Linked DNA regions of Homo sapiens. The protein of the gene in region 1 interacts with the protein of each later gene in a pairwise test. Each region holds a gene or a part of one and is shown on either strand. Other genes may lie near its edges.

The links.
Region 2: the proteins of SEPTIN7 (region 1) and CENPE interact in a two-hybrid assay, tested with the Homo sapiens proteins (one study listed by BioGRID).

Annotation. Positions count from the first base shown.
Region 1 is NC_000007.14:35,901,854-35,907,702, reverse strand, and holds the end of SEPTIN7 (septin-7), read right to left. Parts: intron 4,628-5,849; coding exon 4,488-4,627; intron 3,450-4,487; coding exon 3,410-3,449; 3' UTR 593-3,409; downstream 1-592.
Region 2 is NC_000004.12:103,139,225-103,146,519, reverse strand, and holds part of CENPE (centromere-associated protein E isoform 1 precursor), read left to right. Parts: intron 1-412; coding exon 413-691; intron 692-838; coding exon 839-997; intron 998-1,185; coding exon 1,186-1,470; intron 1,471-1,901; coding exon 1,902-2,189; intron 2,190-3,113; coding exon 3,114-3,272; intron 3,273-4,611; coding exon 4,612-4,770; intron 4,771-5,415; coding exon 5,416-5,706; intron 5,707-6,105; coding exon 6,106-6,264; intron 6,265-6,440; coding exon 6,441-6,731; intron 6,732-7,295. UniProt on the Homo sapiens protein: Microtubule plus-end-directed kinetochore motor which plays an important role in chromosome congression, microtubule-kinetochore conjugation and spindle assembly checkpoint activation.

The DNA.
Region 1 (5,849 bases):
CTCTGTGCTAACAACTCTGTAGAAGATCATGCTTCAGAAATGTGGCAGTGTAGCAGACCAGGTACTTGCAAGGCGTAATATTTAAGCACAGGCCCTGGTGTAACTAAGACCAGTTCAAACTCTTGTTCTGCCAGTTACCACCTATTGAATAAGCTACTAAACATCTTAAACCCTCAGTTTCCTCATCCTTTTGCAGATGAGGAAACAGGGTTTAAGATGTTTAACTTATTCATTTATTAGATAATGTATTAATAAGTTACCTTAAGAGATAACTTACCCAATTGTTATCATTAAGGATTAAATAACACATGTAACTACTTAGGTTACCATCTGGAACAGGACAGTTATGGGAAGTTTTTATTACAAAAGGGGCAGGTAAAATTCTGGATGAAGTACAAGGGCTTACATTTGCAAGCTTATTATTAGAAAGGACTTCGATTTACTGGTGTGGCAAATTTTCCTTTCAGATCAAGTAGGACACCACAGCAGTCTTCACTAGGACCTTCCTTGGTGATTCAACAATAACTATTAACTATCCACATACTGCCTAGATCGATGGCCTCCAACGTGCAAAGTAATAATTCATTGGAGCTTGGGGAAAGTGTAAACCTTTTATTTCACTCTTTCAAATTTTGTTCCATAATGTTCACATTAGTGTAGCAGTACATTTGTTGACACATATTTTCATTGTTCAATACATATAATTATGGACACATGCTCAACAAATATTTTTGTAAGGAAATAGCATCAGGTTTGGAGACCATGATCTAGATAACTGAGTCAACATTTCGCTCCTCATGCATTCATAGCTATCAAGCCGTCTTTCCTTTTTCCCCCTTACCTACCATATCCTGACTTCTACTCCTAGTTTCTCCAAGAGGACAAAACATATTAAGATGCGGTGGGTCAGAATGTGCAGGTGGTAATGTGACACCCAGCTAATGAGTCTGAGAGGCATGGGTATCTCCTCAGCTTTCAAGATTACAGCCTGAGCTACACAGAAATAAACTGTGCCCACTTAACTTGCTTGTGAACCTGATATGGAAGCAATGATATCCCATTCCACTAGGTGGCAGCAAAACTCTACCCACAAGGTGCCCAAGTGGTTCACTGGTATTATTAGTGCTTACTTGTTCAGCCCCACTTAATTAGCAGAAAGACAGTGGCTAACAGGATACTTAAATTACATAATGCCTCCAACAGTGGAGAACAGACACTGCCATTTTGCTTTCTACAGGCTGGCCTTTCCTTAGGCCTACCTGAATTTTACATGTATTGTGAATGATCTTCTCAGACATCCACAGGCCAAATGGCAAAAAGAACCTTCTGATATACCTAAGCCTGGAGTCAACAATCAAAAGTCCTAGTAAAGTTATATAGATCCTGTATCAGATTCAGGTAAAACCCTGGGCATGCCATGGATAAAGAAAGACTTCTGAAAGTTTTCATTAGGATGGTAGAATAATGAATGTCTTACAAATTTATTATTATAATACATAGAATTTTGAAATAGTATTTCCCAGAAGCAGTAGTACTTAACCAGTTCAGCAGGCAGTCTATATACATTTTTTACCTTTGCATTTTCCAAATTCAGTAGGTTATTGTTAGCCTCCCTAAAACCAAACAATTTTGGCTAGAGGTGTTAACCCAATCTCTCAAAACAAAAACTGAAAAAAATAAACACCCAAACAACAATCTCTCTGCTATTGACTTATAATTATTCCCTCCGCTTAGGTCATTAATTTTAAAAAGTAAATAGGGTAAAACATTTCAAGATAATAAACTAGGCTACATTAATTAATTTCTTACCTAAATTATGCATTACATTAAAATCTATGTCACTTGACCTTAAGAAAAGAAATGACACTACCCTCTTTACAGTTAAAAAAAATTTCAGTTTCCAGGGACTTGAGAGTATACCTAATCTGAATGAGTCAGAAACTGTTCTCAGAGGCCAGGCATGACGGCTCATGCCTGTAATCCCAGAACTTTGGGAGGCTGCAAAAAATACAAAAATTAGCCAGGCGTGGTGGTGCACGCCTGCAATCCCAGATACTCAGGGGGCTGAGGCAGGAGGACTGCTTGAGCCCAGAGGGTTGAGGCTGCAGTCAAGTCGTGTTTGTGCCACCGCACTCCAGCCTGGGCAATGAAGCAAGACCCTGTCTGGGGGAAAAAAAAAATGTTCTCAGAAAAATAAGCATACAAATGAGAGATAGAAATGAATAGAGAGATATGGTATCTCTTAAATTAGAAAATCAGCACATATGCATTCTAAATGAGACAAGCATATAAAAGATGTCATTGTAGAGGAGGCAAACTTAAGCTGAAAAGTTTCTTCCCAAACATACTCTACTCTTGTACATCGACTGTAGGATATTTAAGACCTCACACAATATTACATCACAACATCGTTTATTATGTGAATTTTTTACAATACAAACAAAAAATACAGAAATGCAATATATGAATACAGCTAAATGCAGAATGGTGACTTTTTTCTCTTCAAGAGGCCATGATTCCCATTTCTAGTAAAATAAAGAGACTGCATATAGGTAGAAACAGGTTGGTCATTAGCTTCACAATTTTGCCTAGAAATGATCTATAAATGCATTTCCCCCCCTGCTACTTACCATAAAGTGTAAAAAGGGAGTTAAAGGAAAGTTTCCTTGTTGGTTCCTACCATATGAAAGATGCTATATTCTATTTTAGCAGTGCCAATATATGGAAAATATCTAAATTAAATGTTATTACAAAAATGAAGCAGTAATGAGATTCTGGCTAAAGAGGGCACTAAATGAGAATAATATATATTTAAAGAATCCAAAACAAACAAACAAAAAGACGTTGTTATAAAAAAGCTCTAGGTGCACAGTAAGCATATAGGGTTTTTTTTTTTTCCATGTGTATTTTTAAACAATGGAAGTGTCAAAAAATAGGGTCAACTGTGTTAGACTAAATTACATTATTGTATATGCTGCACTGAATGGAACCTTTGTATTGTAATTATCATAGAGAAGCACAGTTTGCATCATATTATGGCAATTTATCCTCAATGAAAATCTTCCAGAGTCCTTTTATTTTGGAATATCCTGTAAACAATCAAACCACCAGAACATGATTGTACAACAGTAAAATGTTCTCTTGCATTAAACTGAAGATATCTGTTTAATAAAAAAAGAAAATGTAGGAAAGGTACTTAGAGCTCTTACTTTCTAAGTACAGAACACCCTAGACAATTCAAGGCATCTTAATCTCCATCAAGAACAAAAAAAAAAATAATTTTTGTCATGCTGTTAAATCCATCATTATGGATAAAACTGGTGCAAATTGGTCAAACGGATCCAACAAACACTGATGTCCAAGCTGGCATATTGGCAACTAATACGTTAACTGGTGGTCAATAGAGAGTTTAAAAGATCTTCCCTTTCTTCTTGTTCTTTTCCAAGGTTCTAAAGGATAAAAGGAAAATAAGCAAGATGAGTAACCATTTTATAAACATGATAGACAACATGATAACAACAGCTAACCCAATTACAACAATGTTGGGATTTTCAGATACTACTTTTTCACTGAAAAAAATTAAAAGATTTAGAAGTAAACAGCTAAGACAATGTTAATCTATAATAGCATTTTCTTAGACAATCAAATATTTGACAAAACTCCAGGATAAGCAGTAAAAAAATAAGGCAAAACTCCATTTTAATATACAAGAACAATTCTTCCCAAATGAAACAGCACAAACTAAAAAGTATCAACTGGCAGCAAACAGGGTATTCTTTTTCCCCCACTGTCATTTGCATTTTGAAGTGCAATTGCTTTCACAAATCTATTTTCCTCTTCTTTGGGGAAAATGTTAACAGTAGGGTAGTGTAGTAGAACAAATGTCAAATCTGAAAATGTTTAGTAATGAGGATAAACTATATAATCCTTATAGGAATGCCACTTTTCAGTTTTAAGTGAAACTATTAAGGAAAAGAAAACCAAGGTACAAATATTATTGAATTTTGTATAAATTAAGAGAAAGTAATTGATTAGTTGTATTGGAAATCAAATATCTAACATTTTGTCTTAAGAATTTTATCGTAAAAACATAATTCAACAGTTAAAACATACCCCTAAATATGTAATAGATTTTGAAGAATGTTCCCTTTGTGTGCCAAAAATTGAAAACAACCCTTATGTCCAACAACTGGGGGGAGGAGGTAAGAAATCCAATGAAGGTAAGTTAACTGGGGAGAATGTTATGAAGTTGCTAAATCATAATTATGAATATTAAGTCATGAAAGATGTACTGAAAAAATACTGCTAATGGACACAGACTGTATCCATCCATATAAAAATATTTATCTATGAAAACCATTGTGTTTGGAATGCATGATAATGGGTGATGACTTTTTAAGTGTTATTCTAATGTTTTTTAAATAAGTAGGAAAACAATTCTTTAAAACATTAATACACACATTTCTTAGTAATCTGCTATTAGTTACCTTGAAGAGTTCTGTTGTTCTAAAATACGTTGTTGAGCTTCCCAGTTTGCTTTCTCATCCTCGAACTGACGACGTTTTTCCTCCAATTCTTTGTGCTGTGCTTCCAAATTCTTTTTCATTTGCTCATGGCGCCGCTGGAGCTAAATCATAGCACAATATATAAAACAAAACTATTTAAGAAATCAGAAGCAGAGGTATGTTTCATCCAGACACCCTAATGATAAGGAGTATGAGCACTATTTGAATAGCCCTGTTGTAAATTCAGAGTACTACCTGGAAGTACTCTGGTCAAGGACTCCTCCTCCTTTAGGACCTGCCACCCAAAAGGCCAGTGACCCAAGACAATAATCTTGGGAAACAGGAAAAAAAAAAAAAGCAACAAACTTAACAGTGTGGAGTACTTTATAATGGAAAATTACTATCTTATCTCGTTTTTCTTTAATCACAAATATGTTGGAGGCTGGGCAGTGAACACATCACTGTTCTCATTGTACAGATGAGGAAACAGTTGCAGAATTTAAGTGACTTGCCCAAGATTGCTAGCCAGAAAGTGGAAGAACCAGGACTTGAATAAGCCTCCTAATTCCAAGTTTAGAAAGCTAAGACAAGTGAAAAGAAAGCAGGTAGTTTAGGACCCTAAGAGCTCAAAGATGCCAGCAAAGTACTCTGATTCCTGTAAGCAGTGGTTCTCAGACATTGGTCTTCATGCAAATCACCTGGGATGTTTGTTAAAAATATAGAATCCTGGACCTCACTCAGACGTACTGAATTAGAATATCTGGGTGTTAAGTCTGGAAATGTGGATTTTCAACAAGTTACAGTGATTCTAATGCAGCTGGTCCTTCCTTCTCTGTGTATTAATACTGTAAAGAATGCTGACTGAGAGGCAGTAAACACTCATGCGAAGTAACTGCAGAAACAAAGTGCTTTAAGTCCAAGAGATCATTAGATAAGTAATTTCATTTAGGTGCAAGTCAATCCATTTCTGAAAAAAAAAAAAGTCAACAAATTTTAAAAATCAGATTAAATCCTTCTATGCCAAATACCCAAGGACTATTCAAAACCTTCAGTTATCCAGGAATTATGTTCTGTTACAGATTTTACTACACTGGTGAGTTAACATTAACATAATGTTAATATATAACTATTATATGTATTATATATTATATACATATTATATATGTTACTATAATTTTGCATACAATTTTTTTTTGCAAGCCCGAAGTGACTTCAGATTTATTCCTATTTCAATTATTTCATGCAATTCCTACAAAACAAAATCACCTAAGACACACTTAAGCAAACATGAATCAAATCTGAGGTGATATCTTCCTGATGACAGCAAACAAGTTACTAAGAAAT
Region 2 (7,295 bases), on another chromosome or scaffold:
CTCTTATCCTTCAGATCTCAGTTAAAGCTTTCTCCTCTAGGAATCCCTTCCTATCATTCACAATAGATTATATTTGACACTTGGGCCGTAGGAGAAGCCAGCATCTCTATTTGGTAAGATTCAACATCATATCTATCTTTGTCCTTGAAGTATAAGTCTCAAAAAGAGAGAGATCCTGTAAGTCTCATCATTTTGTCTCCAGCCTCGAATAAGATGCTGACAACACAGTGAGACCTCAATTTTTAAAAAGCATTAAATGCCTGAATAATGGAAGAGTGGGAGAATGGAGAGATTGCTCTGTAAATGAGGCACTGAATCCTGCCTTAATTGTTTTAGAAAGCATCCTGATTTATTTTCCCCTAAAACACAATATCTCTGGATATCAACTGTACTGTTTTATGATTCTCTTAAGATCCAGGAGTCTCAAAGCAAACAAGAACAGTCCTTAAATATGAAAGAAAAAGACAATGAAACTACCAAAATCGTGAGTGAGATGGAGCAATTCAAACCCAAAGATTCAGCACTACTAAGGATAGAAATAGAAATGCTCGGATTGTCCAAAAGACTTCAAGAAAGTCATGATGAAATGAAATCTGTAGCTAAGGAGAAAGATGACCTACAGAGGCTGCAAGAAGTTCTTCAATCTGAAAGTGACCAGCTCAAAGAAAACATAAAAGAAATTGTAGCTAAAGTAGGTTTCATCTTTCACCATGTTTTTAAAAAATATTTTGTAACCAAATATTATTATAAACCCTAAATATTTGGAAAGGGGAGTTAATTACAACAAAATAGTTATAATGTTTCTATAAATTTATTGGAATTTCCTCTAATAATAAAGCACCTGGAAACTGAAGAGGAACTTAAAGTTGCTCATTGTTGCCTGAAAGAACAAGAGGAAACTATTAATGAGTTAAGAGTGAATCTTTCAGAGAAGGAAACTGAAATATCAACCATTCAAAAGCAGTTAGAAGCAATCAATGATAAATTACAGAACAAGGTAAATTGGGGATGAAGAAACAGTGGGAGGAAATGGGTGGGTTTGGAGTAGCTAACTGAATTATGAAGACTACTATTTGGCATGCTTAATTGTTTTGGGAAGCAACCTTTTCCTCTTAAGTTGTGTATGTGTGTGTGTGTGTTTACATATTTTTATGACTATTAACTTATTTTATAATTATGTTTAAGATCCAAGAGATTTATGAGAAAGAGGAACAATTTAATATAAAACAAATTAGTGAGGTTCAGGAAAAAGTGAATGAACTGAAACAATTCAAGGAGCATCGCAAAGCCAAGGATTCAGCACTACAAAGTATAGAAAGTAAGATGCTCGAGTTGACCAACAGACTTCAAGAAAGTCAAGAAGAAATACAAATTATGATTAAGGAAAAAGAGGAAATGAAAAGAGTACAGGAGGCCCTTCAGATAGAGAGAGACCAACTGAAAGAAAACACTAAAGAAATTGTAGCTAAAGTAAGTTCCCATCTTATTTTTTTTTTTTTTGGATACAGAAATAGTGTTAAGGTGATAATGACGGTGTTCATGTTAAGTTTTATTAATTTTCCTCTAATCATAAAGGGACCGGAAATAAAAGAGGAATCAAAAACTGCTTATATTCAACTGAGTACCAGTAAACTGTTAGTAGACAGAATATTTCAGAGAAGACAGCTCAAGTAGCAAATATTCATTGGGATTTAGGAAATTCTGATGGTGAATTACAGGAAAAAGTGGGACTTGTTAAATTGGAAAATGACATCTAATTATTGTTACTCATATCCCTTATGAAAGAAAGTACTACATACATTAGATTACAATGTAAAAATGATTGCCTTATTTTAGGAACAGTTCTTCCTTTTCCTAAAAAAATTCTGCCTATGTTGTAACTTACTTTATAATTTTCTCAGATGAAAGAATCTCAAGAAAAAGAATATCAGTTTCTTAAGATGACAGCTGTCAATGAGACTCAGGAGAAAATGTGTGAAATAGAACACTTGAAGGAGCAATTTGAGACCCAGAAGTTAAACCTGGAAAACATAGAAACGGAGAATATAAGGTTGACTCAGATACTACATGAAAACCTTGAAGAAATGAGATCTGTAACAAAAGAAAGAGATGACCTTAGGAGTGTGGAGGAGACTCTCAAAGTAGAGAGAGACCAGCTCAAGGAAAACCTTAGAGAAACTATAACTAGAGTGAGTTACCATCTCTCTACACCTCTAGTAACTATGACATTGAGTCCTAAGAGAAAAATCTGCCATAGGGTTGGTGGGAGTATAAAATTGGTCCAGGCCGGGCGCGGTGGCTCGAGCCGGTAATCCCAGCACTTTGGGAGGCCAGGGCGGGCAGATCACGAGGTCAGGAGATCAAGACCATCCTGGCTAACATGGTGAAACGCCATCTCTACTAAAAACATAAAAAATTAGGCAGGCGTGGTGGTGGGCGCCTGTAGTCCCAGCTACTTGGGAGGCTGAGACAGGAGAATGGCGTGAACCCAGGAGGCGGAGGTTGCAGTGAGCCAAGATCGCACCACTGCACTCCAGCCTGGGCGACAGAGCAAGACTCCATCTCAAAAAGTAAAATAAAATAAAAAATAATAAAATAAGATAAAATTGGTCCAATATTGAGGAAAGTTGGTGAGGGTATATTTGGAAATACCTTCCAAATTTTTCCAAAGGTTTATTCGTTGATCCACAAGTCCAGTTGTAACTATCCTCCACACATTTGCACAACTGTATAAAGATATTTGTAGGATATTCTTTGCAACAAGTTGCAATAATGAAATAACACAAACAAAAACAGGGAAAATTCTAACCATCCATTGGTAAGGGACTGGTTAAATAAGTGCAGCACATTCACGTCATGGAATTCTATGCCACAAATAAAAAATGTGGTAGAGCTATAGTGCTGATTTGAAGGGTGAAGTGTCCTGTTAGGGAACAGGGTAAGTTCAGGAATAGTGTATCTAGAATGTATTGACATCTAAAAGTAGCTTAGAGGGTGAGAACTAGGAGGCCTCAGAAGAGGGTGGAAGATTTTTACCTCCTGCCCTATACCTTTCTATAGCATGTGGATGGTACTACTCTCAATGTATTATTTTTATTTTTCTATTGATAAAGGACCTAGAAAAACAAGAGGAGCTAAAAATTGTTCACATGCATCTGAAGGAGCACCAAGAAACTATTGATAAACTAAGAGGGATTGTTTCAGAGAAAACAAATGAAATATCAAATATGCAAAAGGACTTAGAACACTCAAATGATGCCTTAAAAGCACAGGTATTTTATTTTTAAGTTATCTCAGTTACTGAGAGTTTGAATCAAACTTTTTGTGTAATGAAACAAGATATGAATTACCCTAAAATTGAAGGCAAGTGAAGACTTACTTGCCTACTCAATTTAGAAACTATCATTGATCTTTTTATATCTACTGATAATCCTAACTTATTGTATGATTATCTCAAGATCCAAGAACTTCAGGAGAAAGAACATCAACTTCTTTTTTTTTTTTTTTTTTTTTTTTGAGACAGAGTCTCGCTCTGTCGCCTGGAGTGCAACGGCATGATCTCGGCTCACTGCAATGTCTGCCTCCCGGGTTCAAGCGATTCTCCTGCCTCAAGTCTCCCAAGTAACTAGGATTACAGATGCATGTCATCACACCCAGCTAATTTTTGTATTTTTAGTAGAGAGGAGGTTTCACCGTGTTGACCAGGGTGGTCTCGATCTCCTGACCTCATGATCCACCCGCCTCGGCCTCCCAAAGTGCTGGGATTACAGGCATGAGCCGCCAGGCCCAGCCTCAACTTCTTAAAGTAAAAAATGATCTTAGGGAAACTATGTATCAAACAGGTCAGTTAAAGAAGCAGTTAGAGGCCTGGAATGTAACTCTGGAAAGTGTAGAAACGCAGAAATTAAGATTGACTCAGAAGCTTCATGAAAACCTTCAGGATGTAAGATTTGTTACTAAGGAAAATGATGGCCTAAGAGGAGTAGAGGAAATCTTTAAAATGGAGCAAGACCAACTTAGGGAAGGCCTTAGAGAAATAGAAGCTAAAGTAAGCTCATTCCTCTCCCTGGCAATTCAATGTATTGTGTTCTTACAGCAATGAACCCTTCTTTGAACCAAGTACTACTGTTGGCAAGAATGAAATGATACAGCCTTTTAAGCAGATAATTTGGTACTGTTCTTGAAAAGTTCAAGTCTGCAATTATCATTTTCCTTACGGACTTTAGCCTACATATATACTGTTAAAGGAGTGTGTGTGTATATACAAACACAACGTATACATATGCCACAGGTTATTTATTGTAGTGATTTTAATTAAAAATCTGAAACAATCTAAATGTTCCTCAGAAGGAAACAGTAAATATGAACAATATATCGAAATACTATGCAACACTTAAAAAAAGTAATATATGTGTAATGTGTTTGCCTCTGGAAAGCAGAAGTAGAGTGTGAAGAGAGGAGGACAGGGAAGAGAAAGCCTGTACCTTAAAAACAACAGCAAAGATATAGAGTAACAGTGTTATTATTTTTACTAAGAAAATATATCACTTTATTTTTTAAAAACTAATATTAAGATATGTCACTGTTTTTAAAATTTCTCTAATGGTAAAGGATCTGAAAATACAAGAGGAACTAAGAATTGCTCACATGCATCTGAAAGAGCAGCAGGAAACTATTGACAAACTCAGAGGAATTGTTTCTGAGAAGACAGATAAACTATCAAATATGCAAAAAGATTTAGAAAATTCAAATGCTAAATTACAAGAAAAGGTATTTTTATGGGGGGATTGTTTGATTGGATATCTAATTTGTTTGTGCCTAAAATTGTTGGGGATATAAAATGGTTCAACCACACTGGAAAACACCTTGGCAGTATTTACTAATGCTGGATGTAGCCTGCCTGAGGCCCAACATTTCCACTTCTTGGGTATGTACATAAGAGAAAAGAGTACGTACATACTTCTATAAAAAGACACAAGAATGTTTATAGCAGCCTTATTCAAAATAACAAAAAACTGAAAACTCAAATGTCTATCAGCAGGAAAATGGATACATACATTGTGATATATAGGTTCAAAAGCAGGCAAAACTGAACCAGGATGATAAAGGTCAGAATAGTGGCTGTCTCTAGGAAGGAGCACACAGAAACTTTATGAAGTGCTAGAAATATTCTCTGTTTTAATCTGGGTTGTAGTTTCATAGATTTACACCTGTGTCAAGAATAATTAAGTTATACATTGAAGATGAGCATGCTTTATATATATTATACCTCAAAAGAAAGTAAAATTCTGTGTGGAATTGTGCAGGATATCAGTGAGAGTAACATGGGTAGACAGTTGTCTTAATCAATTTAGAAACTATTATTTATCTGTCCCTAAAAAGCCACCTAACATATTATTTTATGATTATCTTAAGATTCAAGAACTTAAGGCAAATGAACATCAACTTATTACGTTAAAAAAAGATGTCAATGAGACACAGAAAAAAGTGTCTGAAATGGAGCAACTAAAGAAACAAATAAAAGACCAAAGCTTAACTCTGAGTAAATTAGAAATAGAGAATTTAAATTTGGCTCAGAAACTTCATGAAAACCTTGAAGAAATGAAATCTGTAATGAAAGAAAGAGATAATCTAAGAAGAGTAGAGGAGACACTCAAACTGGAGAGAGACCAACTCAAGGAAAGCCTGCAAGAAACCAAAGCTAGAGTGAGTTGTGTTCTCTCTTTACCCTACCATTATATTCACATATTTGGGCAAAAATACAGTGTTCACTGCAGCGTTGTGTCTGGTGACTAAAACCTAGAAATAATCTAAGTGTCCACCAATAATAAGGCACTATCTGTATAATGGAAAACTAAGCATAAGAATGGGGTATTCTTTTTGTGATATTGATTTAGAAAGATGTCCAAGTGGTATGAAAGGAGAAGGCTATGGGTGAGGCTACCAGCAGAAAATTTTACTTTACTCTTCTAATTTAGGAGGTTGTATAATGGTTGTTTTTAACTGTGAGTGTATAATTTTTAAGATTTTGTTTAAACTCAATCATTAAGTAAAGGTAACGTGCCTTTATATCATTACATTTCTTGATTTCTTCTAACCATAAAGGATCTGGAAATACAACAGGAACTAAAAACTGCTCGTATGCTATCAAAAGAACACAAAGAAACTGTTGATAAACTTAGAGAAAAAATTTCAGAAAAGACAATTCAAATTTCAGACATTCAAAAGGATTTAGATAAATCAAAAGATGAATTACAGAAAAAGGTATGTGTTGTTTTGTTCTTCTTTTGGAAGTAACTGTGCCCAAAATTATTTGTGGAATTAAAAAGATATAGATACAGATATGTAGATAGATATGTGCATATAGAACACAAGTAGACACTATTTGCCTTCCTTGAAGAAACTGCTTACATTCTAACTTGTTTTACAATTATCTCAAGATCCAAGAACTTCAGAAAAAAGAACTTCAACTGCTTAGAGTGAAAGAAGATGTCAATATGAGTCATAAAAAAATTAATGAAATGGAACAGTTGAAGAAGCAATTTGAGGCCCAAAACTTATCTATGCAAAGTGTGAGAATGGATAACTTCCAGTTGACTAAGAAACTTCATGAAAGCCTTGAAGAAATAAGAATTGTAGCTAAAGAAAGAGATGAGCTAAGGAGGATAAAAGAATCTCTCAAAATGGAAAGGGACCAATTCATAGCAACCTTAAGGGAAATGATAGCTAGAGTGAGTTCAGAGTCTTCCTTTGTGTAGTAACTATTAATAAGAATTAAGCTTTTTTGAAAAGAATTACAATGTTTTTATTTCTTTCTCTGGAAATTCCTATGAACAGTAAAGGACAGTGGGAAATGGTTACTCTAATTTTTACACAATAGAAAACAGTTTTAAAAGAAGCAAAAATATTTTCAGAAAATAACATTTAATTCTTTATTTTTATAAACTGTGTTAAAGCAGTCTATTTCCCTTAATATAACATTTTAAAGTTTTTTTTAATCAAGAGATAGCATTATTCTAAATGGAGAAATATTTGAAGGATTAGATTTGTAAGAGAGCAAATATTCCCATTTCTCTACCTATACATGCTGGAGTTCTAGAGTTGGGCTCTTATTGGTGAAGTTAAAAGGAAAAAAGGGAAGATAAATATAAAAATTAAGTTCCTCTGGTATGACTATTTATAGATATTCAGAATCATATATCTTAAAATATCTAATTAAATCCTCTTTTTGAAAGTAACAGAGTTCAGACAAGTTTATTAAAATCTGTAAAAATCTTTTTTATTCTCATATTTCT